Linked DNA regions of Homo sapiens. The protein of the gene in region 5 purifies or fractionates together with the protein of the main gene of each other region. This does not show direct contact. Each region holds a gene or a part of one and is shown on either strand. Other genes may lie near its edges. The genes, in order: ATP8A1, LMBR1, ABCB1, MFSD8, SLC43A3, IFITM1 and RABL3.

Evidence for each region.
Region 1: the proteins of SLC43A3 (region 5) and ATP8A1 purify together in Homo sapiens (affinity purification with mass spectrometry; one large-scale study listed by BioGRID and IntAct). This does not show direct contact.
Region 2: the proteins of SLC43A3 (region 5) and LMBR1 purify together in Homo sapiens (affinity purification with mass spectrometry; one large-scale study listed by BioGRID and IntAct). This does not show direct contact.
Region 3: the proteins of SLC43A3 (region 5) and ABCB1 purify together in Homo sapiens (affinity purification with mass spectrometry; one large-scale study listed by BioGRID and IntAct). This does not show direct contact.
Region 4: the proteins of SLC43A3 (region 5) and MFSD8 purify together in Homo sapiens (affinity purification with mass spectrometry; one large-scale study listed by BioGRID and IntAct). This does not show direct contact.
Region 6: the proteins of SLC43A3 (region 5) and IFITM1 purify together in Homo sapiens (affinity purification with mass spectrometry; one large-scale study listed by BioGRID and IntAct). This does not show direct contact.
Region 7: the proteins of SLC43A3 (region 5) and RABL3 purify together in Homo sapiens (affinity purification with mass spectrometry; one large-scale study listed by BioGRID and IntAct). This does not show direct contact.

The regions. Positions count from the first base shown.
Region 1 is NC_000004.12:42,576,666-42,580,752, forward strand, and holds part of ATP8A1 (phospholipid-transporting ATPase IA), read right to left. Parts: intron 3,314-4,087; coding exon 3,148-3,313; intron 1,723-3,147; coding exon 1,595-1,722; intron 1-1,594. UniProt on the Homo sapiens protein: Catalytic component of a P4-ATPase flippase complex which catalyzes the hydrolysis of ATP coupled to the transport of aminophospholipids from the outer to the inner leaflet of various membranes and ensures the maintenance of asymmetric distribution of phospholipids.
Region 2 is NC_000007.14:156,886,506-156,890,592, forward strand, and holds part of LMBR1 (limb region 1 protein homolog), read right to left. Parts: intron 1-4,087. UniProt on the Homo sapiens protein: Putative membrane receptor.
Region 3 is NC_000007.14:87,513,517-87,517,603, forward strand, and holds part of ABCB1 (ATP-dependent translocase ABCB1), read right to left. Parts: intron 3,150-4,087; coding exon 2,993-3,149; intron 1,913-2,992; coding exon 1,715-1,912; intron 1-1,714. UniProt on the Homo sapiens protein: Translocates drugs and phospholipids across the membrane. Catalyzes the flop of phospholipids from the cytoplasmic to the exoplasmic leaflet of the apical membrane.
Region 4 is NC_000004.12:127,954,853-127,958,939, forward strand, and holds part of MFSD8 (major facilitator superfamily domain-containing protein 8), read right to left. Parts: intron 2,741-4,087; coding exon 2,649-2,740; intron 1-2,648. UniProt on the Homo sapiens protein: Outward-rectifying chloride channel involved in endolysosomal chloride homeostasis, membrane fusion and function. Conducts chloride currents up to hundreds of picoamperes.
Region 5 is NC_000011.10:57,409,674-57,413,760, forward strand, and holds part of SLC43A3 (equilibrative nucleobase transporter 1), read right to left. Parts: intron 449-4,087; coding exon 262-448; intron 1-261. UniProt on the Homo sapiens protein: Sodium-independent purine-selective nucleobase transporter which mediates the equilibrative transport of extracellular purine nucleobases such as adenine, guanine and hypoxanthine.
Region 6 is NC_000011.10:312,371-316,159, reverse strand, and holds IFITM1 (interferon-induced transmembrane protein 1), read right to left. Parts: upstream 2,121-3,789; 5' UTR 1,990-2,120; coding exon 1,804-1,989; intron 1,239-1,803; coding exon 1,047-1,238; 3' UTR 888-1,046; downstream 1-887.
Region 7 is NC_000003.12:120,735,780-120,739,866, forward strand, and holds part of RABL3 (rab-like protein 3), read right to left. Parts: intron 2,889-4,087; exon of another isoform or gene 2,748-2,888; intron 1-2,747. UniProt on the Homo sapiens protein: Required for KRAS signaling regulation and modulation of cell proliferation. Regulator of KRAS prenylation, and probably prenylation of other small GTPases. Required for lymphocyte development and function. Not required for myeloid cell development.

The DNA.
Region 1 (4,087 bases), on a different chromosome or scaffold from region 5:
TCAAAGCCCATCTCTCCCATGTCTGTATTCTGAACTGATCAACATCACTTCTGAAATAGGTTATTGAGTTTTATGTGCCATGTGTTAAGAGAGAGATTAACCAACTGGGCCTTTGTTCAGAAGAGAAAGTGATCAGAATAGAGATTAATCTGGAAATCACATGAACTGAAGGACAACAGAAGGCGGGGAATGTTTAATTAGAAAGGAAAAGATAGGATAGAATTGGCATGATAGCTGAGTTCAGATATTTTGCAAGACTATCATTCAGAAACAAGATTAAGCATTTTCTTAATAGATCCATTGGGAAGAACCAGAATCAAAGGAAGACAGTTATAATCTCATTTTCACACAAGAAAGTTGCTTTGTAAAAGAAGGCTGGAAAGTCAGTGTTCTATCTGTCAGATGTTATAAAATCTCTGTATATTAGAAAGGTGGTTGAAAGCATAAGCCTGCTGGGTTCATCCAATACTAAAATTATATAATTCTTTGAAAGATATTATTTTTGAAAATCAAAACAACAAAGTGATTATCTAGCTTACTTATGTGATTCTCACAATGAGTTACCCTATTATTGCTATAAGAAACTTCAATAAGTCTTACTTATATTTGTACATATCCTATTACGTAATTTTTCAGCCATATATCTCCTGCATGAAGTGAGCTACACCTGCAGCTCATTTTAGATTTCTAAATCACACTGATTTCTTACCAATGAATTAAGAGATTGACAGTTTAGGTAGATAATTCGCTACAAGAAGATAATGAGCAGTTACAAAAGTATGTCATATTTTTCGAAACCCTAATATTGTTCATATTGAAAGACTTTACAATGATTGAAAAAGAAAGAAACATCAAAAATAACACAAAGTTTCTCAAAATAAAAGAAAAATTAAATTTTCTGGCAGATTAGGCCCACAGATTTAATTTAGATAAATTCATTAATTTTAACTTTAATAAAAATAAAACTAAGACATTTAAAAACATTTAGAAAGTAGATGTCCAACATTTTTCTAATATTTAACAATATTCAAGAGAAAAATTATGAAGAAAAATTCAAGTGAAGCTAAAATTGTTTACAGTGTAGAAAATAACATGATATAACATGATAATCTGGTTGATATCAGTAAGAATTACAGTATTATTTGTATAGTGATTGATTATTTTCAAAGCTCTTTGCTATGTCAAGAGATTCCTTAGTCCATAAAACCACTGTAAGATGTAGGTAAGGCATATTATCCCTATGATTGTGTTCAAGAAAATAAGTTTCAAAATAAGTGACTTGAGAAAGTTGATACACCTAGTAAATTATAATACTAGAACCATAATTCAGACACTTAACTCCAAACTCATGGTTCTCCATCTCCCACGACCACCATAGGTTTCCTGAACTAGAGACCCATTTTCCCTACAATGTCTGGCCTGTAAACTTGTGTGATTCTGAGATGAGGAACTTTGCAACAAATTAGGTTCAAAAATCTGATACTGTGGTCAAGAAACGGTAGATATAATTAAAACCTTTTTTCTCCTGAGATATCAAAATATCCTAAGGACAAAATTATTTTGTAGGGTGATAACAATCATAATTCATATTTACCCAATTTATGAAGTATGCCTGGGTAAATTTCACAACTTCTAATGTAACCAATAAGCTGATAGGAATGAGATTGTTGAAAAGGATGATGAAGGTCAAGAAATTCAGTCCAAAATTACTAGCGCCACCATCTGTTGGGAGAGGCAGGAAGAACGTCATTTACAGTTTTATATTTTATTTGCATTGACCCCAAATTAGCATAATACAAGTTTTCCATACTACGCAGCTTATTTGATAATTTGGGAGGAACACTTTGCTGATAATCTATCCTAATTCTCAAGTACATCCTTCAAGATAGAATTGCATTGTGTTCAATATGTTGTTAATCCAGGTAAGAGCTGTATAAAAGTACTAAGACAGTGAAAGGACTGTCAAATATTGCAAACCCTCTTCCAAACACAAAGTTTAGAGACATCAGGGATAGCACTGAGGGTTTATAAATATAAAATCTCAATTGGGTAGAATCACTTTTATATAAATTCTTAAGAGTATTTCCAATTTAAAGCATACTTTAAAAGCAAACAAGACAGCAGCAGCAAAAACAATCCAAACTATATGAGTAATATTCAGTCCTAGGTAAATTATTCTCCTAGGTACATTATACTCTTCTTCCTCAAAATGAAAATAAAACTGCTATACCAGATACAATTATAAAGTATACAAAGAAACAGACTGATGGTAGTAACAGTTCTGATACTGAAATAATAAATCAGTAACTATAAAAACAACTTGGAATTGCTGCAAAGATAAATCAATATAATAAAAAAAATTTAAAAATACCAGTTTTTGCTATGTGATTGTACTAGAATTTGCTTTCACACTTTTGGAAGTTAAGTCTTTATTGGCTAAGTACTCATGAAATGAAAATGTAAACTCATTTGACAGAAATATCCAGGGGTGGTACATTAATATCACAATAATAAAAGGATAAATGCTCTAAAGGAAAACTATTTACTAGCACCTTCTCTAAGATAACATTTAATATAGGACTTACCACATTACTGAGTTCAAATGAAAATACATTGGGTTTAAACATTTTTAAACCATATAAACCACTTTTTGGTACTTTTATTTAAATAAAATATAAACAAAGTATATTTTATTTAAGATAAAATATATTTAAATATTTATATTATTTAAATATATTTAAAATATTTTATATATTTATAAATACATACAATATATATTTAAATATATATGTTTTGTTATATCCACACATGGTCAATCTACTTTCTTTACCATATAGTTAACCACCTATGTTAAAAATATTTTTAAGGAATAGTTTTCGTTGATATATATAATAAATGACTATACTTAGTGAACATTTTATACCACTATAGAGTGCTCATTATGTTTTTAAGGATTCTGAAATTTTAGGATTCCCAAATTTTACTTACACTTGCTAGAAATCTCACTGAAAAATAAAGATCAAATGTCCAGCTATCTTGGCAACAAGGTCTTTTTAGAAACAATACGAAATAAAGTAAATCAAGATCAATTGTGAAACAAATACATGTCTTAATCTAAAAAAGTGCAGTAAGCACTTTATTGCTTACAGTTTAGATTGAGATACCAGTCTTTTCCAGAATGCCTTCGATTCCAAATGGCTGAGCCCACAGAACAGACAAGAGACATGGCAATTAAGATACAAAATAAAATCAAAATTTGTACATTTGTAATCCGTTCCACATTTGAGAGCTTAAGTGGTGGACTTGTTGAATTCTGTAAAAAGAAACAAGATGAGTAATAAAAAATGTACACCAATGATTTAGCAATCTATACTTAGTATTCTGTTGAGGATGACAAAGTCACAACTCAGTATCTAGATGTGGGTGGATACGTGAAAATTATGTGAAACCCATGACAAATGTAATAAGGTGCCAATGGTTAACCACCTTTTTTTCAAGGCCACTACACCACCCAGGCCTTTTTCTAGGAAGTAAACTATAAGAAAGAAGAGAACGAAATTACATTCCCTTTGCAAAAATAGCTTTTGCATTGTGGCAGGTAAGATGAATAATGCATTACTTGGCTATGTAAGCAAACAGGGTAGTCTAGAAACATTTAGTGTTTCCGTTCAGGAAGACAGGCAGACAAGGCAGCCCATGCTCCCGCAAACAGGCACCTGGAAATTTGAACATAGGAAGGCAACATTTAAAGGATCTCCGGCTTTCAAATTTCTGGTGGCATTTAGCAATTGTTTTACTGAACGCAGCAACAATTTAAGTAGTCCTGGCTATAAAGAATAACAGAGGCAAGTTGCCTCAGTTGTATTTGATGATTCAAATGGTTATGTAGACCTGTGCTAACCAAAAAATCCATAGAACAGAAAATTAAATGTCAGAATGAATATGAAATGAAGATTTATAGAATTTATAAAATGGCTAGTGGTGGAATCACTAACAGCAATCTCGCTTGCCTATTGATAATACCTTCATGCCTGTACAAGGTACAAAGGTATTAGCTCTGAGAGCAGATTTTCATTTAGTTTCTTAA
Region 2 (4,087 bases), on a different chromosome or scaffold from region 5:
AGCCTCTGTAAACTGGCCAGAACCAGTTCATGCTCAGTGCTCTTATCAGGAGAAAGTTACTGAAATCAGTCTCTTGTCCAATCAAAGCTATAGTTATGGCTTGTGGAACAGGAGAGTGGGGATCACTTAGGGTCTGGCAGTGAGTGAGCTGCAGTTATCTTAATATTGCTTATCTGGAGGCCAGTGCTTGTTTAGCCGCTAGAAAAAAAGAAACACCTTGAGGCAGTTAGAACCAGTTTATTCTTTAAGGGGATGCTTTACTTAACCCTTGCCTGGCATGGCCCTACATTTTGTTCACAGTTGGGTATTTTATTGCCACAAAGAGTCTGTTCTCTCAGTCTTCAGATCTCTATTTTAACATTAATGCTGGTCAGCTGTGTTTAAACCTCAAAAGGGAGGGGGTATACTGAGGCGTGTCAGATGTCCCATCCCATTCTGGTTGGGAATTCAGTTTTTAAGGTTTCCTGGGGTCCCCTTAGCCAAGAGAGGGTATACTCAGTTAGCTGGCAGCCTTAGGATTTCATAGCTAGCTCTCAAAAGAAAGGAAATCAATCATTACTACCTGATACTAATAGCCAAAGTCAAATATGATCACTAAAGCAACTGACAAGAGAACTATGAGATATTCATAATACAAAAGACAAAATTATTACATGAGTATTTAAAAGTTAAACACTAGGCTGGGCGCGGTGGCTCACGCCTGTAATCCCAGCACTTTGGGAGGCCGAGGCGGCAGATCACGAGGTCAAGAGATTGAGACCATTCTGGCCAACATGGTGAAACCCCGTCTCTACTAAAAGTACAGAAATTAGCTGGGTGTGGTGACGCTCGCCTGTAGTCCCAGCTACTCGGGAGGCTGAGGCAGGAGAATTGCCTGAACCCGGGAGGCGGAGGTTGCAGTGAGCCTTGAGATTGTGCCACTGCACTCCAACCTGGCGACAGAGTGAGACTCCATCTCAAAAAAAAAAAAAAAAAAAAAAGTTAAACACTATATTGTACAAAAAAATTAATTCAAAATGGATCAGACCTAAACCTAAGAGCTAAAACTATACAACTCTTAGAGGAAAACCTTCATGATGCCAGTTGGTGATGATGCCAGTTGGTGATGAATTCTTGGATATGACACAAAAAAACACAGGCAACAAATGAAAAAATAGATCAATTGGACTACAAAATTAAAAACTTTTGTGCATCAAAGGACACTAGCAATAGAGTAAAAAGGCAACCCTACAGAATGGGCGAGAAGTGTTTGCAAATCACATGTCTGATAAGGGGTTAATATTCAGAATATATAAAGAACTCCTAAAACTAAACAACAAAAATCAAGCAACTCAATTCAAAAACAGGCAAAGAACAGATATTTCTCCAAAGAAGATGTCCATATAGTCAATAAGCACATGAAACAATGCTGAACTTCACTTATAATTAGGGAAATGCAAATCAAATCCAGCATCAGATACCATTTCACATCCATTTTAAAAAAAAGAAGAAAAACAGAAAACAATGTGTGTTGGTGAAGATGCGGAAGAACCAGAAACTCTGGCTCCTTGCTAGTGGGAATATAAAATGGTACAGCCTCTGTGGAAAATGGTATGGCAGTTCCTCAAAAAAATTAAACATAGAGGCCGGGCGTGGTGGCTCACGCCTGTAATCCCAGCACTTTGGGAGGCTGAGGCGGGCGAATCACGAGGTCAGGAGATCAAGACCTTCCTGGCTAACATGGTGAAACCCCGTCTCTACTAAAAATACAAAAAGTTAGCTGGGCGTGGTGGCGGGTGCCTGTAGTCCCAGCTACTCGGGAGGCTGAGGCAGGAGAATGGCATGAACCGGGGGGGCGGAGCTTGCAGTGAGCCGAGATTGAGTCACTGCACTCCAGCCTGGGAAACACAGCGAGACTCTGTCTCAAAAAAAAAAAAAAAAAAAATTAAACATAGAATTATCATATGATCCAGCAATTCTACTTCTGAATTGAAAGCAGGGACTCTAATAGATATTTGCATACCCATGATCACAGCAGCATTATTCACAATAGCCAAAAACAGAAACAACTCAGGTCAATTGATGAATGAATGGGTAAGCAAAATACAGTATACACAAAAAGAAAATATTATTCAGCCTGAACAAATTCTGGGCCAGGCACGTTGGCTCCCGCCTGTAATCCCAGCACTTTGGGAGGCCAGGGTGGGTGCATCACTTGAGGCCAGGAGTTCAAGAACAGCCTGGGCAACATAGCAAAAACCCCATCTCTACAAAAAATTAAAAAATGAGGCCAGGCACAGTGGCTCACACCTGTAATCCCAGCACTTTGGGAGGCTGAGGCAGGTGGATCACCTGGGGTCAGGAGTTCAAGACCAGCCTGGCCAACATGGTGAAACCCATCTCTACTAAAAATACAAAAATTAGCCAAGTGCGGTGGCGCATGCCTGTAATCCCAGCTACTCGGGAGGCTGAGGCAGGAGAATTGCTTGAACCAGGGAGGGAGAGGTTGCAATGAGCCGAGATCACGCCACTGCACTCTAGCCTGGGCAACAGAGAAAGACTCTGTCTCAAAAAAAAAAAAGAAAGAAAAAGAAATTTTGACACATGCTACAACACAGGTGAACTTTGAAGGCATTATGCTAAGTGAAATAAGCCAGATAGAAAAGGACAAATATTGTATGGTTCAACTGGGAATAGTCAGATTCATATAGGCAGAACCAGCAGCTGGAGAGAGTGAAGAATGGAGAGTTACTGTTTCATGGGTATCAAGTTTCAGTTGATGAAAAAGATCTGGAAATGGATAGTGGTGGTGGTTGCACAACAATGTGAATGTATTTAACGCCACTGAACTGTATATTTAGATATGGTAAATTGCATGTTATATATATATATCTTATTATGATAAAAAAGTTAAGCAATTATAGCATTATGTAGCAAAATCAGAAAGAATTGAATAATTTTAAAAATTGGCAACAGGTCTTAGAGAAAAAGTATTTACATTCACTCTAAATATAAATCATTTGAGAAAGAAATGCCAAAGACTGGGAACCCTGAGCCTGGTCACTGTCTGCGCTGGTTCTGTAGAAGATGGAGTAGACTCAACCAGCCAGGGGTACTGGGTTGAGGGAAACAGGTGAGGAGAGTCAGAACTAAAGAACTCCATAATCGGTACCAAAACCGTTTTCAGGGGAGTAGACGAAGCTCTGGACTGTTTTACAATGTGTCCCTTTCTCAACCCAAATTCTAGAATATCTAATTAATTAAAAGTAAAGCCAAAGAGCAGGAGGATCACTTGAGCCCAGGAGACAGGTCTGGGCAACACGGTGAGACCTCACCTCTACAAAAAATTAAAAGATTAGCTGGGTCTGTTAGTGCACACCTGTATGATTCAAGCCTGTAGTCCCAGCTACTTGGGAAGCTGAGGTGGGAGGATCGCCTGAGCCTTGGAAGTCAAGGCTGCAGTGAGCCATGATTGCGCCACTGCACGACAGCCTGGTCAACAGAGGGAGAACCTGTCTCAAATTTTAAAAAATAATAAAACTAAAGACAAATAGACCAATAAAACCACATAAAGTCCAAAATTAAACCCTATGAATATACAGTTACCTATCTGTGACAAAAGTCCTAAATAGTGCTGAAGCAATTGGACATTCCTGTGGGAGAAAAAAATATGACTCCTACCTTGCACCAGACACAAAAAAATAAATTCGAAATAGATTGCAAATTTAAATGAGAAGAGTAATTCAATAAAGCATTTAGAGAAAAGAAGAAGAGAACATCAGTCTTAGAGTAAGGAGAGATTTCTTAATCGGGACATTAAAAGTACTCAAAAAAATTTTAATAAATTGAACTATATTAAAATTAATAATTTCTGTTCATCAGAAGATATCATTAAAAGTGAAAGGCATCCACAGAGTGGGAAAGAAATATGTGCAGTATATATTTCTGACAAAGAAATCATATCCACCTGTATAACAATATAATACAAGTTATTCTGTAAAGACCTTGCAAATCAATATTAAAAAGATAAACTTAATTTTTAAATGGGGAAAAAAATTTGACCCTTCACAAGATTTCCAAATGGCTAATAAACAAACAGGTGCTCAAA
Region 3 (4,087 bases), on a different chromosome or scaffold from region 5:
TGAGTACATTAGTGGATGGTGACATCTTTAAATCTTTCCTACATGAGTTCTCATCAGAGAAGTTTGAGAACCACTACTCAAACTAAACTCCCATTTCAGCCAAAGTGTCCTATTTGCTGCATTGGGAACAAATCACTGATCGCAGCTTGTATTTTCTCTTACATTGAATGTCATCCCTACTGTTCACCCATATGCAAATCCTTATCTCTTAAGAACTAGCTCTAGGCCTATCTCCTTTAACTCACAAAACTATATGCCCCATCTCCTCAGTTAAAGTATTTGAGGGCAGATATCATGCCCTACAATTCATTATAGCACAATCTTTAACACACCACTTAATAACTGTCTGTTGAGGGCCATAATCAGTGTCTGAGAGCTAACATTTCCTCCTCTAATTGCTTTGGCTGTCAGCGACGTCTTTATTTAGAGTCCTGTTTTTAAGTTCACCACAAAATTGAAGGACACAATCAGAGTTCACAGAAAATATAAAGCAAGAGAGTAAAAGTAGGGAACAAGCTTGTAATGATTTAAGAGTAAACTGAATAAAGGCATAACTGTCTTTGAATACAATAACAAACATTTATGAGTAAGAGTGACCGCTGTGAGGAAGTAAAAAGAGTCCTAGACTAAAGATTGAAAACTCTCTTTTCATTTGAGTCATTAAATGCTACCAGCGTCCATACACAGCGGGTGGGCATCCATCTGACTTGTACTAGCAGGCATCCATTCTGATTGGTCAGTGTCCATGCTGTTCCCATTGTTAAGAATTTTAAATATCACTTCTCAGTACAACTAATTACATGCCTACATAATGAAAATGTCTTGCTCTTAATTCTATTCCTTCCTAGTTTGTCTTCTTTCCTATCCCCCATCATAGTCGTTTAAACTCACTACTCCCTGCCAGACACTTCCCTCATCCCCAGCAACTAAGACAAAAGGGCATACTTCCATGTTCTTTTTACATTTCCCAAATTTGTTGATTCTACTTTTTTTTCCTCAGATGATGTTTCAATGCCCTCTCTCCATCAATGATTTTGTCTCATCCCCAGTCATAAAAATGCTCAAGAGTTCAACCCCTAAACATTTTCCCTGGACTCTGCCTCCCCACTCAAGTGCTGTCCTTATTTGCCTTTCTTTTACTTTCCATCTTCTTGATAATCTATGCTCACTTACATCTCCATTTCTTCCCCTAATCATACTTCAGCCACCCTTAACTGTTTCCTACCATCACTACTTCACTAAGAATATTTTAAAATGTCAGAAATAGCCCATTCATTGCTAGATTCTATCATGTCTTCTCAGTCTCCTCCTTACCCAATCTCTCTATACCATCTGTCATTGCTGACCACCATCTTTGAAACAGTCTCCATCCTTGGCTTTCATCTCACTCCTAGCACCTGTCCTGTATCTTTCTGGCTACTTCCATTTTTGTTGGTTCTTTTCAAGTCAGCTGAAACCTAAGTACAGCAAGGGAGACAGGTGGTACAAAGGGTGCTTGCAAAGGAGGGTAGAGGGGTAGTGTTGAGGGGAGCCTGGAGAAGTTGGCTGGGACAGATGACACCACTTGGAGACCATATTTAGGCTCTCAGACTTTATCCAAGTGGGACTGTTGTTTAAAGGTTTGAAAAAACATGGCTTATAGTTGAGAATTAAATACATTCAGACATTTGGATGATGAAAACCTGAACTGAGCTAAATGTGAAAGTGTGCTCACCACTTTCCCTGCCAAGGGGTCGTAGAACCGCTCCAGGAGCTGGACCACTGTGCTCTTCCCACAGCCACTGCTGCCCACCAGAGCCAGCGTCTGGCCCTTCTTCACCTCCAGGCTCAGTCCCTGAAGCACTGGGATGTCCGGTCGGGTGGGATAGTTGAATACAACTTCACCAAATGTGACATTTCCTTCCAATGTGTTCTGCAATGAGAAGAATAACAGTAAATTTGAATGCTGCAATACTGAAAATAAAGTGTATAGCTAACTCTCTCGATTACCAGGTGTCAGAAGATAATTAATTTGTGTTACAATTGGCTTCACTTCAAACTGCTAGAATTTATTTTATTTTAATTTTATTATTTATTTATTTTTTATTTTTTTGAGACAGAGTCTCACTCTGTCACCCAGGCTGGAGTGCAGTGGCATGATCTCAGCTCACTGCAACCTCCACCCCCCAGGTTCAAGCAATTCTCGTACCTCAGCCTCCCAAGTAGCTGGGATTACAGGCGTGTGCCACCACACCCAGCTAATCTTTTTTTTTTTATTTTTATTTGAGATGGAGTTTCACCATATTGGCCAAGCTGGTCTCGAACTCCTGACCTCACGTGATCCACCCACCTTGGCCTCCCAAAGTGCTGGGATTACAGGCATGAGCCACTGTGCTTGACCTCAGACTGCTAGAATTTAATAAATGAGATCTAAAAGAGTAAAAGCTTTCATAGCATGTATTGTTAAGACAATATGAATATGCAATACAGCTACAATAACTCAAATCTGTTCCTCAGGAATACAGTAACTTACATACAATAAAATCTGATAACCAGCCTGGGCAACATAACGAGACCCTGTCTCTACAAATAATTAAAAAATTAGCTGGGCATGATGGCACACGCTTGTAGTCCCAGTTACTTGGGAGGCTGAGGCAGGAGGATCGCTTGAGCCCAGAAGATCAAGGCTGCAGTGAGCTATGATCATACTGCTGCACTCCAGCCTGGATGACAGAGTAAGACTCTGTCTCTAAAAAAAAATTGTTTTTAAAAAATCTGATTAATAGGTTTTGCTTATAAAGTGAGCAGTATTCCTATTTCCCTATAACCTTTGCTACGTAAAAGTACTGAATGTTGATGTATATTATTAGCAGTAATTGAAAGGAATCTATGATCTAGGAAGTTTTATTTTATCATCAGCATATTTGAAAGTACAAATTTTATTAAGTTTCCACTTAAAATACTTTCATTCAGGAGTCAGGAGTAGATCAAACAGTTGAAACATCAAACTCACCGGCATTAGGCCTTCCGTGCTGTAGCTGTCAATCAAAGGGGTTTTTTCAATGATCATGATGATGTGGGCTGCTGATATTTTGGCTTTGGCATAGTCAGGAGCAAATGAACTGACTTGCCCCACGGCCATGGCACCAAAGACAACAGCTGAAAATACTCTGGAAAGCACAAACACAAAACATGTGCACAGCATTACCATCACAATGCTAGAAAGCTGACACTCCTTTTTTTTTTTTTTTTTTTTTTTGAGGTGGGGTCTTCCTGTGTTGCCCAGGCTGGAGTGCAGTAGTGCAATCAGAGCTCACTAAAGATATGATCTCCAGGGCTTAAGCGATCTTCCCACCTCAGCCTCTGTAGTAGCTGGGACTACAACTGTGCATGACCACACCAGCTAATTGTTTTATTTTTTGTAGAGATGGGGGTCTCCCTATATTGCCCAGGCTGGTCTCGAACTACCGGGCTGAAGTGAACCTCCTGCTTCAGCCTCCAAAAGTGCCGGGATTATAGGTGTGAGCCACCATGCCTGGCCAAAAGTTGACACTTCTATAACCAGAGAGCTTTGCCTCTAATAGTTATAAAACAGATGTTAAAAATAAAACAAACACATTTCCTTATAAGTTCATGTCTATGTGATAGATTGATTGCAAAATGGCCCATTTTTTTCCCTCTGTATACCTCTCTCTGTATCCTCATCTTCTTGCACTGTGACCTTTGCAGCACCCTTTGAATCTGGGCTGGCCTTGTGACTTGCTTTGGCCAACAGGATATGGTGGAAATCACTTTTGCCAGTTCCAAGCCTATGACTCAGGGGGCCTTATATGCTTTGTGAGCATGCATGCATGTGTTCTCTCTCTCTTTCTCTCTCTCTCTCTCAGAATTCTGCCACTGTCTCAAACCCAGGATAGCCTGCTGGAGGATGAGGCACACATGGAGGAGAGCTGTCTGAATCCCAACCAACCAGCTACAGACACAATCCACTACAGACACATGAGTAAGTCCAGCCGAGATCCACTATGCCTAATCCAGATCAGTAGAACTTCACAGCTAACCCATAGGTTTGTGGGCAAAAATATGTATGTCTCTGAGGTTTAGTGGC
Region 4 (4,087 bases), on a different chromosome or scaffold from region 5:
AGATATACAAATGGACAGAAAGCACAAGAAACATGTTCAACATCACTAATCATTAAGAAGATGCAAATCAAAACAAGATACCATCTCATCCACTAGGATGACTACTATCCAAAAGAAAGTTAACGTTGGCAAGGATGTGAAAAAATTGGAACCCTGACTGTTGTTGAGAATGTAAATAAAATGGTACGGCTGCTATGGAAAACAGTATGGCAATTTTCCAAAAAATTAAAAAATTAAAAAGAAAATCATAATATGATCCAGCAATTTCACTTCTGGATATATACCCAAAAGGACTAAAAGCAGGATCTTGAAGAGATATTTGCACACCCATATTGACAGCAGCACTATTCACAACAGCCAAGAGGTGGAAGCAACCCAAATGTCCATCGACAGATAAATGGCTAAACAAAATGTGGTAGGCCAGGCTAGGCTGTAATCCTAGCACTTTGGGAGGCTGAGGCCGGTGGATCACGAGGTCAGGAGTTCAAGACCAGCCTGGCCAAGATGGTGAAACCCCATCTCTACTAAAAATACAAAAATTAGCCGGGCATGGTGGTGGGTGACTGTAATCCCAGCTACCTGGGAGGCTGAGGCAGAGAATTGCTTGAACCCCGCAGGCGGAGGTTTCAGTGAGCCAAGATCACACCACTGCACTCCAGCTTGGACGACAGAGCGAGACTTTGTCTCAAAAAAAAAAAAAAAAAAAATGTGGTATATACTGAAGGCAATCAGAGTATGCTACTCCAAAAATCTGCTGTTTTGCCATATTAATTATCTCAAACTGAAGGCAACCGAGAAATAGCAGATGCAGGAAGGGTTCTCTGCTCTCCCCCTTTCTGCCTGAATGCAGAGAATAGATTGAATTTTGTTTTGTTGTTAATTCTTTGAGGCACAATTGAGATTCTGTTACCTACAATCTGTCTTGGGACATTAAGACACAGGTATAATTAAGACTGTATATTTAAACTTAAGAAATTTTGCACTGGCCAGGCGGGGTGGCTCACGCCTGTAATCCCAGCACTTTGGGAGGCTGAGGCGGGCAGATCATGAGGTCACGAGATCGAGACCATCCTGGCTAACGCCGTGAAACCCCATCTCTACTAAAGATACAAAAAAATTAGCTGGGCGTGATAGCGTGCGCCTGTAGTCCCAGCTACTCGGGAGGCTAAGGCACAAGAATTGCTCGAACCCAGGAGGCAGAGGTTGCAGTAAGCCGAGATCACACCACTGCACTCCAGCCTGGGCGACTCCACCTCAAAAAATGAATAAATAATAATAAATAATAAAATTTTTTTAAAAAGAAATTTTGCACATCTTCAAGAAGTAGCAGAACAAATAATTGACTGATGGCTGTAAAGATGAAATACTTTTGGCCAGGTGCGGTGGCTCAGGCCTGTAATTCCAGCACTTTGGGAGGCTGAGTCTGGCAGATCACGAGGTCAGGAGATCAAGACATCCCGGCTAACACAGTGAAACCCCGTCTCTACTAAAAATATAAAACAATTAGCGTGGTGGCGGGTGTCTGTAGTCCCAGCTACTCGGGAGGCTGAGGCAGGAGAATCACGCGAACCTGGGAGGCGGAGCTTGCAGTGAGCCGAGATCGCGCCACTGCACTCCAGCCTGGGCGACAGTGCGAAACTCCGTCTTGAAAAAAAAAAAAAAAGAAAAAAGATGAAATATTTTTAACTGGGGGCGGTGACTCACGCCTGTAATCGCAGCACTTTGGGAGGCCGAGGTGGGCAGATCACCTGAGGTTGGGAGTTCGAGACCAGCCTGACCAACATGGAGACATCCCGTCTCTACTAAAAATACAAAATTAGCCAGGGGTGGTGGCACATGCCTGTAATCCCAGATACTTGGCAGGCTGGGGCAGGCGAATCGCTTGAATCTGGGAGGTGGAGGTTGCAGTGAGCTGAGATCGTGCCATTGCACTCCAGCCTGGGCAACAAGAGTGAAACTCCGTCTCAAAAAAAAAAAAAAAAAAAGATGAAATACTTTTGTGAGTACATGAAAGTGTTAGGGACTCTTAGTAGTTGTCTAGTTTCGTTTGTATGTACATTCCTTAATGTTATTTGTTTCTTTTCATTAAAAAATATTAACATCAAATAAATTTGTATACTTTTTTAACTGTTAGTCTTTCTTTTGTCAGCTTAATTCACAAGCCTTAAGCACATAGGAGAATAGAGGAAAAATTTCTCCTACCCTAGAATACATATAATGAACTATACAGCCTTTAAATAAAAGGAAATTATCACAAGTGCAACATGAACCAACTTGAGGACATTGAGTGAAATAATCTCATCACAAGAAAAAAAATACTATATAATTCCATTTATATGAGCTATCTAGAATAGTCAAATTCCAAGAAACAAAGTTTGCTAGGGCTTGGGGGATGGGAAAATAGGGAGTTGTTTAATGGGTATAGAGTTTCTCTTTTGCAAGATGAAAATGTTCTAGGGATTGGTTGCACAACAATGTGGATATACTTAAGGCTATTGAACTTAGATATGGTAACACGGTAAATTTATGTCACGTATTTTTTAGCACAATAAAGATAATTTCAGAGGCAATGAAAGTAAATGAAGTAAATGAAGTTAAAATATGACATCTGATCTGAATTGTTAAAATTATGTATTTCTAATACTTACCTACACTGCTGAGAAACATAGTAAGATATAAAATCCTAATAGATCTCCATCGGCTCTTATAATGCTCTTCAGTCTCTAAAATGTCCCATTCTCTAGGTGTAAAGAAGAAAAAAGTAGTATAAATTTATCTCATTACATGTGGATCTTAAGTGTCAACAGTTTTATTCTCTAGTTATGAAAATGATGTGATAGAGGTAGAATTTACCAATATTGATTCTGCTACACTAATTTATCTATGAATAAGCATTATTTTTTTGAATTTCCATGGATTGTATATATGCATTATTGTATACAGAAATTTGGGAAACAGTATAGTTTTAAAAGAGGAAACTTTTTGCAAGGCAATTATTTTGCTACCATTGACATGCACAGATTTATTAATCAAGAGTGTTGCAATTTGTAAAAATGAATAAATTACGTCAAGATAAATCAAATAAACTAGCTACAACTAGATCCCCCGTAGCTACTAAGTACTAAAAAATAATAACTGTCATCATTATAACATGCTCTACTTGATGACAGCAAATTAAATTGCTGCAGGAAGCTCTTTTGGCTTCCTACTTCAGAAAACAGGAATGATACCAGGAAGGTTTAACGTAACCTAAGACATTTTCAGCCCTGGGACCTCCTAAATGGGTTACCAGATAAATTTTATCAGCAGACCAAAGAGAGACCATGACTCCCCAGACTTAAGTGATCTTTTGGATAAGCGTCTGATCTGGACCAAAGGCATGTATACTAAGTAGATATCTTACCTCCATTAGGTGACACATGAGTCTATATACTCATTACATTTTCACACACACAATAGAAAGAGTTAACAAGTTCACCTTAACGTGAGCATTATCTTTTCAAATAATCAAGACATGCAGAACAGACAAAATGCCTTCTTATGTTCCAAGATTAATTTCTTAAAAATAAGCCTTAGAACTGTCAAATTAGTCTTCAAAAAAGAAACTTTTTTTTTTCAAACGTGATATGGTTGGGAGTGGTAAAGAGGAAAGGAAGAAGAGAAACAATGTTTTTAGATGTATTATATGCCAAACATATTAGTTCCTAATATATTTAAAGTGTTTAACACTATATATGTCATTCCATATAAACAAACCTCTTCTGAGTCAAAGGAGATAAGAAAAAAATAAAAATAATGTAGCTTACCTGAGAAAAATACCAGAACCCTAGATGCCCATACTTTGAAATCAATATACTAGAATTTGAATAAAAAACCAGATATATCTAAGTTAGGGAATCAAGAAGTAAATTATTTGATTCTAAAAAAATAATAAAATTGTTTGAGTGACTGATTTAGAGCTCAGACAAAATCTTTCTTCTTTTAATGACAAATGACAATTATTAAATATTGAAAGGATAAAATTAGAAAATAATAATTTAATGGCCACTTTCTATGCTATAATGGAAGGATCATCAATGGATGCTAA
Region 5 (4,087 bases):
AGAAGTGGGCCTCAGAGGATGAATACGAGTTCACCAGGTAGAAAACAGAGGGAGAGGGCACCGCAGATGTAAAGGCTCAAGTGCATGAATGTTCTATCCTTCCCACCACCTCTGGTCTCACCCCCTCCACACCTGCCCCCAAACCCAGTCTCCCGCACCTGACTGCCTCCAGGCCCCGCCTTGCCTCCCAATTTCTTTACCTCCAGCTTCTCTTTGCCCCAGTGTGTCCGTCTCCACAGAGCCCGCCCCAAGGCCACTTACGCAAGGGTGAGGAAGGCCGCGTTGCTCCCATAGAGGAAGGAGCGGCTGATCACTTGCAGGATGAAGGTGAGGTACTGGAGAGGGAGGATGGGGACTGAGGCACAGAGGGCGAAGCCCAGGCACAGCAGGGATGTCAGGGCCAGCGAAGGCACCGTCGAGCAGAGGGCCACCGCCAAAGTGGAGGAACCTGGGCGAACAGAGAGGAAAAAGAAGCTCTCTGTAGGCCAACCCAACAGAAGTCAGCGAAGGGCCAAGGAAGATTGGAAAAAGGGGAGGAGCCACTATCCATCCACTGTCCCAACAGAAACCTGGGAGTCATCCTCGAATCCTTTCCCCACATGCCCCACCTCAAACTCATCAATAATGCTGATCATTCACCTCCTACATATCATTCAAATGTGCCCACTTCTCTCCAACCCCACTGACTCATCCTAGCTTTAAACTACCATTAACTCAGTCATGGATTACTGCAATACCCTCCTGACAGGCTACACATCTGCCCCTCCCCACCCTGAACATGTAGCCAGATCCTCTTTGTAACACTACTGGTAATAGCAAAAGACTGGAAACAATCCAAATAGTCATCAGTACAGGAATGCTGTGGCAACTATGCTGCAGCCATGTAATGGAGACCCAGGCAGTGGTTAAAAGGCATGAGAGGTCCCTGCTACAGAGCACCCTCAGGATAGAGTTACATCAAAAAAAAAAAAAACTCTGCAGAATAGTGTATACAGTATACTACCTTTTATCTAAAAGAGAGGGAAATGTATTGATATGGTTTGGCTGTGTCCCCACCCAAATCTCACGTTGAATTATATCTCCCAGAATTCCCACGTATTGTGGGTGGGACCCAGTGGGGGAGGGTAACTGAATCATGGGGGCCAGTCTTTCCCACGCTATTCTTGTGATAGTGAATAAATCTCACGAGATCTGATGGGTTTATCAGGGGTTTCCACTTTTGATTCTTCCTCATTTTTCTCTTGCCACCACCGTGTAAGAAGTGCCTTTCACCTCCTGCCATGATTCTGAGGCCTTGCCAGCCATGTGGAACTGTAAGTCCAATTAAACCTCTTTTTCTTCCCAGTCTCAGATAGGTCTTTATCAGCAGCATGAAAACAGACTAATACATGTATATACACCTACACAATGTTTATATTTAAAAAAATAAAAATGGTTACCTAAAGAAGAGGAAAAGGGGTACAAGAAACAGAGAGGGAAAGTAAACTTCTTTGAATATATCTTGTTTCACAGTTTTACCTTTGGGAAAATGTAAATGTCTGATATGTAAATGTTTTACAAATAAAATAAAATAATAATAGGAAGAAAACAAGTAAAACAATCTTTAAAAATCAGAAACAAAATAAAATGAAATCAATGAACATAACTCTATACCAAATTAGTGACCCTTAAAATCAGTAATTTGGCCCAGTGTGGTGGCTCACACCCACAATCCCAACACTTTGGGAGGCCAGGGCAAGAGGATTGCTTGAGCTCAGGAGTTAGACATCAGCCTGGGCAACAAAGACCCTTCCTCTACAAAAAAAAAAAAAAAAAAAAAAAAAAAAAAAAAATTATTTTAAATTAGCCAGACATGGTAGTGCATGCCTGTAGTCCAAGCTACTTGGGAGGCTGAAGGGAGAGGATCACTTGAGCCCAGGAGGTTGAGGCTGCAGTGAGCCGTGATCGTACCACTGTACTCCAGCTTGGGCAACAGAGTGAGACCTCATCCCTAAAAATAAAGAAGAAAATATGGCAATTTGACTGTACATCTCTAATGGGATATATCCTAAGGATGAGAAAGGAATAAGGAAGGACAGAAAAAAGGAAACAAAGAAGTAGCAACAGTATTTAGCAATTGTATTGTTATCAAGTAACATCAATATTGGTAAAACCAGTAATTATATTTAAAATACTATATATGTGTATGTACATTTACATATGCATATGTTAGGAACCAAGTTTATCAGAGGAAGAGAAAGGGCTACAAATGTAAAATCAAGGAAATAAAAATTTGAATAAAAATATCAGTATTAAGTATTTATGATATTTTTCTTATAAAAAAATTATATATATGTTAACTCTATCCAAAACCCAAAAGCAGTGACAACCCAGGAGCAATAAAAAACCTCAGCATCCAGACTGTAGTCTCTACCATTTCCAATTAAAGAAACCCAGGGCTAGTTGGGAAAAATGACAATTTCATGTCTAGGGCAAGAAACACACCTAGTGAAATGGACCTGAACATTTAATTGTGTTAGAAAGTAAGGAAACTCTCTAGAAATAATGTGATTTCATCTAAAAGACACAGATTCTGGGCTGGTAAAGTTTTCAATGGCCAAAGGTGAGACAATTTGAGCATCAAGAAGAATCATGACAGAACAGATTAAAACATGTCAAATATATTTTAAAATGAAATATTATAAAAGAAACAATTAGTAGCCATCCCTGAAGGTCACTAGGGCACCAACTCATATTTCAAACTGGTAAATAAATGTGTAAGCCAAGCATTTATTTCTGGGTAACAAAATAGTAAGGAATGTTTTTCTTTCTAGAAGAATTCTAGTGATTAAAAGTAGAAGATAGAAATAGAAAATCATCCTTTTGGCCAGGGGCAGTGGCTGTAATCCCAGAACTTTGGGAGGCCAAGGCAGGTGGATCACTGGAGATCAGGAGTTTGAGACCAGCCTGGCCAACATGGTGAAACCCCATCTCTACTAAAAATACAAAAATTAGCCAGGTAGTGGGTGCCTGTAATGCCAGCTACTCGGGATGCTGAGGCAGGAGAATCGCTTGAACCTGGGAGGCGGAGGTCGCAGTAGGCTGAGATTACGCCACTGCACTCCAGCCTAGGCAACACAGTGAGACTCTGTCTCAAAAAAAAAAAAAGAAAGAAAAGAAAATCATCCTTTTGCGATCCTAATGAAATAATGGGCCTAGGCATTGATCATTAATGGCTCCTAAAATCACTAAGTATATGGTTGATGGGAAACTTTATAGTGGATGGATCAGACTCGCAATGTCTAAACCAGTTGATCAATCTTAACATCGTAACAAGACAACAGACACCAGGGGCTGCTGACAGGAGAACAGAGGAAACCCATAGCTCTACCACTGAGTTATTCACGGCAAAAAAAAAAAAAAAAAAATTAAACTGCGTTTCCTCCAAGCTTCTAATCCTGTTGTTTACAGGAAATACCCAAGGAAAGGAATACTTTTAAATGACACATTAAAACAACGCCAAATCCAAAATATGGGGAAATGACCCAGTTTCTTCAACAAATAAACAAGAAAAGGTAGGGGGGAGGACTGTTCTAGATTTTAAAAGCTATAGAAGACACAGCAACCAAATACACTGCATGGACCAGGCATGGATCCTAATTGGAACAAACCAACTGTAAAAGGATGTATTTGAAATGATTGGAGGAATTTGAACAGTGACTGCACAGTAGATGATATGAAGAAATTATTGTTATTTTTTAGGTGTGATCATGATTTTATGGTGATGTTTAAGTAAAAGAGGCCTTATTTGTTAGAGATACATGTACGGGTATAGAGAAATATTTACGGATGAAATGATACGATGTCTGAGATTTGCTTTGAAAACTCTAGCAGGTGTGGGAGAAGCAGGTGCATGGGTGGGGGAAGGGATAGATGAAATAAGTATGCAAAATGTTAGTCTACTTTTGTCCCTCCTGACCCAGCAGGTTAAAATACCTCAGCATACCTCTACTCCTCCAACCAGGTCCAAGGATCAGGCCAAAACTCCCTGATGTGGTAAACAGCCTGACCCCTTCTTACCTCTCTCTCTCCAGCCACTTCCCTAAGA
Region 6 (3,789 bases), about 57 Mb from region 5:
AGGCCCAAGGCCGCTGCGGGCCTGGCACGGGCTGCTGTCCACGGGCACCCGAGGAGTCCGCGGCGAGGAGCGGCCAGGCCGACCAGCTCTGCTCCCGCGGGTGCCGTCTGGGAAACTTCTCGGCTCCCGCCTCTCACCTCCCCGCGGCCCGCGCACCCCCGACGCCCGTGGGGACCGGGATCTGGCCGCGCTGCTGGGCCGTGGCGAGCTGGCGTTCGGCGCCCGGGACCCACGACGCGCCCTGCGTCTCCGACTTCGTGATGCCTCGGACTTCCCGTCACATTTCAAGACTGCGGGATCCCGGGGCCCTCGCTGGCTGCACCAGAGGGGTCTCCACCTGGCGGGACCCTCTTCCCGAGCTCCCGCGGGGCTCCCGGTCGGAAGCTGCCCTCCCAGGCCCTCGCGAGCGCCCCACCCTCGGGCCATTGGCTGCCCCCACCCCAGGGGAGCAGGGAAGATGCCGGCTGGACTGGAGGAGGCAGCTGCTAGGATCCAGCACACCTGGATCACCCAGGAGAGGCTGCAGCCCTGAGGTTCCTTCAGCTGCTACCCTAGGAACAAAGCCCCTGCCCCTCCCACAGGGCCTAAGGTGCACACATCTGCAAGACCAGCTGCCCAGCCAGCTCAGAGGCAGGTTGTCCTGGCCCAAAGGTATTCTGGACAGTGTGTCCTTACCTTGGTGTCAGAGAAATGCCCACCCCACGTTCCTGGTCCAGATGCTGCCCACAGCAGGAGGCGGAAACCAGCAGATTCTGAGCATATCCCTGCTCCCCTGAGAGCTTCACAGAGGAGGGATACGGCTGTGCAGGGGCTGAGCACTGGGCTGTCTCAGGACTAGGCCGGGACCCCTCAGCAGGGCCCCCACTCCAGATGAAGTCACAGCATCATCACAAGCACGTGCACTTTATTGAATGACACTGTAGACAGGTGTGTGGGTATAAACTGCTGTATCTAGGGGCAGGACCAAGGGGGCAGGGGCAACAGCCCCAGCGTGCAGGGCCAGCATTGCACAGTGGAGTGCAAAGGTTGCAGGCTATGGGCGGCTACTAGTAACCCCGTTTTTCCTGTATTATCTGTAACATAATATGGTAGACTGTCACAGAGCCGAATACCAGTAACAGGATGAATCCAATGGTCATGAGGATGCCCAGAATCAGGGCCCAGATGTTCAGGCACTTGGCGGTGGAGGCATAGGCCTGGGCCCCGGTCACGTCGCCAACCATCTTCCTGTCCCTAGACTGGGGGAGAGGAGATGGTGAGGGGACCAGGATCCCCCAGCTGAGAGCCGCGTGCTATGGCTCCGTCTCCTCCCCGCCCTGAGATCAGGGACCACCTCCTCCCCTTCCTCACCCGGGCTCAGACTCTCCAGGAGCCTCGGGGCTCATCCTCCTTCTGCCTTGGCCCCAGCACAGGCTGTTCTCCCCACCATGGGGTGAAGTCACCTGTGAGTTCCCTTCTCACTTTCTGGGAGAGCCTGGGTGCCAGTCTGGAAGGTGAGGGTGTAATTTCTTACTGGGCTATAGGGAGAATTGCTCTGGGCTAATGGATAGCCAGGGACAGACTCTGAGCCAGCCAGCCAGCCTCCTGGAGCCTCCTCCTAGACCTGCACTGGGCAGATTCCCCAAAGCCACACACACACACAGATCACACAGACAAAGCTACTGACGTGAGCACACACGGGGCAGAGGTGCACACAAACTCACAGTCACAGGGACACACAAGTCCCCACCCCAGGCAGCATGTGGGCAGGTGGAGCCCCAGGCTCACCGGCACCCCCTGGATTTCCGCCAGGGCCATACGCACCTTCACGGAGTAGGCGAATGCTATGAAGCCCAGACAGCACCAGTTCAAGAAGAGGGTGTTGAACAGGGACCAGACGACATGGTCGGGCACGGAGGTCTCGCTGTGGATGTTGATCACGGTGGACCTTGGAAGGATGGTGCTGGGGGGTGGCCCCAGCACAGCCACCTCATGTTCCTCCTTGTGCATCTTCTGGCTTTGGGGAAGGAAGTGTTGAGTGAAGGTTTGAGAAGTGTGGTTTTCTGCGTGGAGCGAAGGGCCGCTGTGGTGTCCGGATGCTGGGACGGTGCTCAGTGAGACCTCCTTTCCCCTGTCGTTTCAGTTTCTCAGAAGTGTGTATTTCTCTTAAGTTTCTATTTCCTGCTGTTTGTAAATTGGTGAATTAGCCAGGGACCAATGAGGTGTGGTTTAACTTCTTGAGGATCAAATTACTTTATGGCAGGGTGGGAGGAAAGGCTGAAGGCTAAGGAGAGAGGCTTCCTCATCAGAAACTCAAGTCAGGACTAGTGACTTCCTAAGTGTTGGGTTTAGGGGGCCCTGGGGATTTTACCCAGGCTTGGGTTCTGTCCACCCCAGGCCAGCAAGTACAGGACCTCACTGTCCCGGTTCAGGGCCCCTGCCAGGCCCCCACACTCCAGGCGCCAGGACAATCCCCCAAAAGCCCTCACCTCACTTGTCGCAGGCCTCTCTCCTGAAATCCTTGCTCTTTCCTCAGGCTGCAGTCCTGCTCTGTGCGGGTTTGGGGACTAAACCTCCCAGTGTCTCCTGGTGCAGGTCAGAGGCCTGGTGGCCAAAGTTTCCTGCCCCAAAGCAGCCCTCCAGGCCCAGGAACGGGGACTCTGGGGAGAACTGACTCCCCAGAGGGTAGTGTGTTGAGACACGGGGAGGATTCCAGGGCCTGTAGGGGCAGCTTCAGAGCACAGGGCACACATGTGCCACCCCCTACCTTCCGGGTCCCAGCAATTCCCATGGCTTTGGTTGGGGTGAGTGCTGGATGACCTAGGCGTTGGGTCCTAGCCATGCAGGAGAGACCTGGAGGGTTGGCAAAGCCAAGTCTGGGGCTGTCAGGCCTGGGTGCCCCTTCACAGGGACGGGGAATTGTAGACTGAGTAGCAGAAGGGAGCCCTCAGGCACAAGGATCATGAATTACAAATTGCAAATTACATAAAGGAAAAATCAGAGCCCAAAGGTGGGCCTGCAATTATTAATGTAATGTTCTTAAGTTCTCTTTCTGCTTTCGTTTCTGCCTGCTTTAAGTCTGCTGTTACTTTTCTACAGAGATAAAATCCACTGTTTGCATCCAACCATTTCTTTTTATTGTTTGTGTAAACCAATGAATTTGTATTACTATCTCATGGCTGGAGTTCTGAAGTAAAACCATACTTTTGCTTGAGTGTGTATGTGTGTATATGTGCACATACACATATTTCGTTATGTGTTTTTGGCCACAAGTTACCAAATTTAGCTTAAACTTAAAGAGTACTCATAAATTAAATAATAAGCCTAAATGCTTTTCACGTTCATGTGACTTAAGTAGAATCTTTAATAAGCTAGCTTTAAAATTACTGGTAACGTTAGAAATTGTAGCAGGACGAGCCACAGACAAAACCCTCAGACATCGAGTTGAGGAAAGAAAGGGCTTTATTTGGCCTTTATTCGGCCAGGAGCATCAGCAGACTTAACATCTCAAACACCGAGCTCCAAAACCATCAGCCCCTCCCTACCCATTGCAGCTAAAAAAAAAAAAAAAGAACTAGCCCTTGCCCTTGCTTGGAGTCCCTGCTGGGCCTCCCCAAATCGCACACCAACCCCCCCACCCTCCACCCACCCCTCAACAGGCCGCCTCCAGCCCCAGCCACATCCCAGGCCACTTAGACCAAACTATGTCTGGGTCCCGGCAAGCCAGGGGTGGATGTGGATGGAGCGTGCTCTGAGACATCGAGGACTGCCTACACAAACTCCTCACAAGGCTCTGTGACCTCCTATCAA
Region 7 (4,087 bases), on a different chromosome or scaffold from region 5:
TTCTGCCTTCATTTCATTATGTACCCAGTAGTCATTCAGGAGTAGGTTGTTCAGTTTCCATGCAGTTGAGCGGTTTTGAGTGAGTTTCTCAATCCTGAGTTCTAGTTTGACAGCACTGTGGTCTGAGAGACAGTTTGTTACAACTACTGTTCTTTTACATTTACTGAGGATTGCTTTATTCCAACTGTGTGGTCAGTTTTGCAATAAGTGTGATGTGGTGCTGAGAAGAATGTATATTCTGTTGATTTGGGATGGAGAGTTCTGTAGAGGTCTATTAGGTCCGCTTGGTGCAGAGGTGAGTTCAATTCCTGGATATGCTTGTTAACTTTCTGTCTTGTTGATCTGTCTAATGTTGACAGTGGGGTGTTAAAGTCTCCCATTTTTATTGCGTGGGAGTCTAAGTGTCTTTGTAGGTCTCCAAGGACTTGCTTTATGAATCTGGGTGCTCCTGTATTGGGTGCATATATGTTTAGGATAGTTAGCTGTTCTTGTTGAATTGATCCCTTTACCATTATGTAATGGCCTTCTTTGTCTCTTTTGATCTTTGTTGTTTAAAGTCTGTTTTATCAGAAACTAGGATTGCAAACCCTGCCTTTTTTTGTTTTCCATTTGCTTGGTAGATCTTCCTCCATCCCTTTATTTTGAGCCTATGTGTGTCTCTGTACATGAGCTGGGTCTCCTGAATACAGCACACTGATGGGTCTTGACAATTTGCCAGTCTGTCTTTTAATTGGAGCATTTAGCCCACTTACATTTAAGGTTAATATTGTTATGTGTGAATTTGATCCTGTCATCATGATGTTAGCTGGTTATTTTGCTCATTAGTTGATGCAGTTTCTTCCTAGCCTCAATGGTCTTTACAATTTGGCATGTTTTTGCAGTGGCTGGTACCAGTTGTTCCTTTCCATGTTTAGTGCTTCCTTCAGGAGCTCTTTTAGGGCAGGCCTGGTGGTGACAAAATCTCTCAGCATTTGCTTGTCTGTCAAGTATTTTATTTCTCCTTCATTTATGAAGCTTAGTTTGGCTGGATATGAAATTCTGGGTTGAAAATTCTTTTCTTTAAGAATGTTGAATATTGGTCCTCACTCTCTTCTGGTTTGTAGAGTTTCTGCTGAGAGATACGCTGATGGGCTTCCCTTTGTGGGTAACCTGACTTTTCTCTCTGGCTGCCCTTAACATTTTTTCCTTCATTTCAACTTTGGTGAATCTGACAATTACATGTCTTGGAGTTGCTCCTCTTGAGGAGTATCTTTGTGGCGTTCTCTGTATTTCCTGAATTTGAATGTTGGCCTGCCTTGCTACGTTGGGGAACTTCTCCTGGATAATATCCTGCAGAGTGTTTTCCAACTTGGTTCCATTCTCCCTGTCACTTTCAGGTACACCAATCAGACATAGATTTGGTATTTGCACATAGTCCCATATTTCTTGGAGCCTTTGTTCGTTCTTTTTACTCTTTTTTCTCTAAACTTCTCTTCTCACTTAATTTCATACATTTGATCTTCCATCACTGATACCCTTTCTTCCAGTTGATCAAATCGGCTACTGAAGCTTGTGCATCATCACGTAGTTCTTGTGCCATGGTTTTCAGCTCCAACAGGTCATTTAAGGACTTCTCTACATTGGTTATTCTAGTTAGCCATTCAGCTAATCTTTTTTCAAGGTTTTTAGCTTCTTTGCAATGGGTTTGAACTTCGTCCTTTAGCTCGGAGAAGTTTGATCATCTGAAGACTTCTTCTCTCAACTTGTGAAAGTCATTCTCCATCCAGCTTTGTTCCTTTGCTGGCGAGGAGCTGCGTTTCTTTGCAGGGGGAGAGGTGCTCTGATTTTTAGACTTTTCAGCTTTTCTGCTCTGTTTTTTCCCCATCTTTGTGGTTTTATCTACCTTTGGTCTTTGATGATGGAGTCGGACAGATGGGGTTTTGTTGTGGATGTCCTTTCTGTTTGTCAGTTTTCCTTCTAACAGTCAGGACCCTCAGCTGCAGGTCTGTTGGATTTTGATGGAGGTCCGCTCCAGACCCTGTTTGCCTGGGCATCAGCAGCAGAGGTGGCAGAACAGCGAATATTGCTGAACAGCAAATGTTGCTGCCTGATCATTCATTCCTCTGGAAGCTTTTTCTCAGCGGGGTACTGGGCCATGTGAGGTGTCAGTCTGCCCCTACTGGAGGGTGCCTCCCAGTTAGGCTACTCGGGGGTCAGGGACCCACTTGAGGGGGCAATCTGTCTGTTCTCAAACTCTGTGCTGGGAGAACCACTACTCACTTCAAAGCTGTCCGACAGGGACATTTAAGTCTGCAGAGGTTTCAGGCTATGCCCTGCCCTCCGAGGTGGAGTCTACAGAGGCACACAGGCCTCCTTGAGCTGCGGTGGGCTCCACCCAGTTCGAGCTTCCTGGCCTCTTTGTTTACTTACTCAAGCTTCATCAATGGCGGGCGCCCCTCCCCCAGCCTCACTGCCACCTTGCAGATCTCAGACTGCTGTGCTAGCAATGAGCAAGGCTCCGTGGGTGTGGCACCCTCTGAGCCAGGTCAGAGATATAATCTCCTGGTGTGCTGTTTGCTAAGACCATTGGAAAAGCACAGTATTAGGGTGGGAGGGACCCAATTTTCCAGGTGCTGTCTGTCACCGCTTCCCTTGGCTAGGAAAGGGAATTCCCTGACTCCTTGCGCTTCTTTGGCTCACACACAGTGGGCTGCACCCACTGTCCTGCCCCCACGGTCTGACAAGCCCCAGTGAAATGAACTTGGTACCTCGTTGGAAATGCAGAAATCACCTGTCTTCTGCGTCGCTCACGCTGGGAGCTGTAGACTGGAGCTGTTCCTAATTGGTCATCTTGGAACCACTCCCTTAATTTTAAGTTCCTTGAGGGTTCTTACGCAGCTTTTTTATCTCTAGTATTTAGATCAGAACCTTAATTAGTATTTATTAAAAGTTTCCATATTATTCCAAAATCTTCATAAACATTTAAAGTATCTCCATAGTACTTCAGAAAGTAGGCATAAAAATTTACTTAATCATTCTTCCATTATTATTAGATATTTAGGGTGTTTTGAAATTTTTGATATGCTAGTGAAAGGTTATTTCTGTTTAAACCTTTGTTTAAAATTAAAATTATGTCCTTAGTATACCTTCCCAGGAGTAAACTCAGTACTTAAAAGGAAACATTTAAAGTTCTTGATATGCATTGAGAAATAACTTTCATGGGGTTATACTGCCACCAGCCATACACTTGAGCCTGCAGGTCTTGTTGCACCTCAACAGTATCATGTAGTTGGCTTTTCATCCTTGTTAACCTGATAAAGGAATAAAAGTGACATCTTGGCCAGGTGCGTTGGCTCACACCTGTAATCCCAGCACTTTGGGAGGCTGAGGCAGGCAGATCACGAGGTCAGGAGTTCGAGACCAGCCTGGCCAAAATGGTGAAACCCTGTCTCTACTAAAAATACAAAAATTAGCTGGGCGTGGTGGTGGGTGCCTGTAATCCCAGCTACTTGGGAGGCTGAGGCAAGAGAATCACTTGAACCCAGGAGGCAGAGGCTGCAGTGAGCCGAGATTGCGCCACTGCACTCCAGCCTGGGTGACAGAGCAACAATCCGTCTCGGTGGTGGCGGGCAGTGGGGGAGTGACAGCTTGCTTTAGTCTGCATTTCTTTACTTTCTGATAAAGATCAAAGATTATCATTATGATTATTCTGGCAAATCAGTTGTTTTTCCTCTCATAAATTCTCTGTTGATCTACTCTGTACCTTTATCTACCAGGTTTTAGTGTCATTAATTTATATGAGCTCTTTATCTATTAAATATATTAATCATTTTACGTATGTGTAATTGAATCAAACATTTTCTCAGGCTTCCCTTTTATTACTTTTTTTATATAGAAACATTTAAGATTTTTAAATACTCAAAATTATATTTGTCATTGAATTTACTGCATTGTGTCTAATATCTGTAACTTTTAGGATGTATTGTTGATTCTGTATTTGTAAATAGGTTTGTTTATGTTCAAGGAATGTATCTATCCACTTAATTATCAGCTTGATGCAACACTTGAGGCCTAGTTTAGCTTAATTGTGTTAGGGTAAACATTTCCA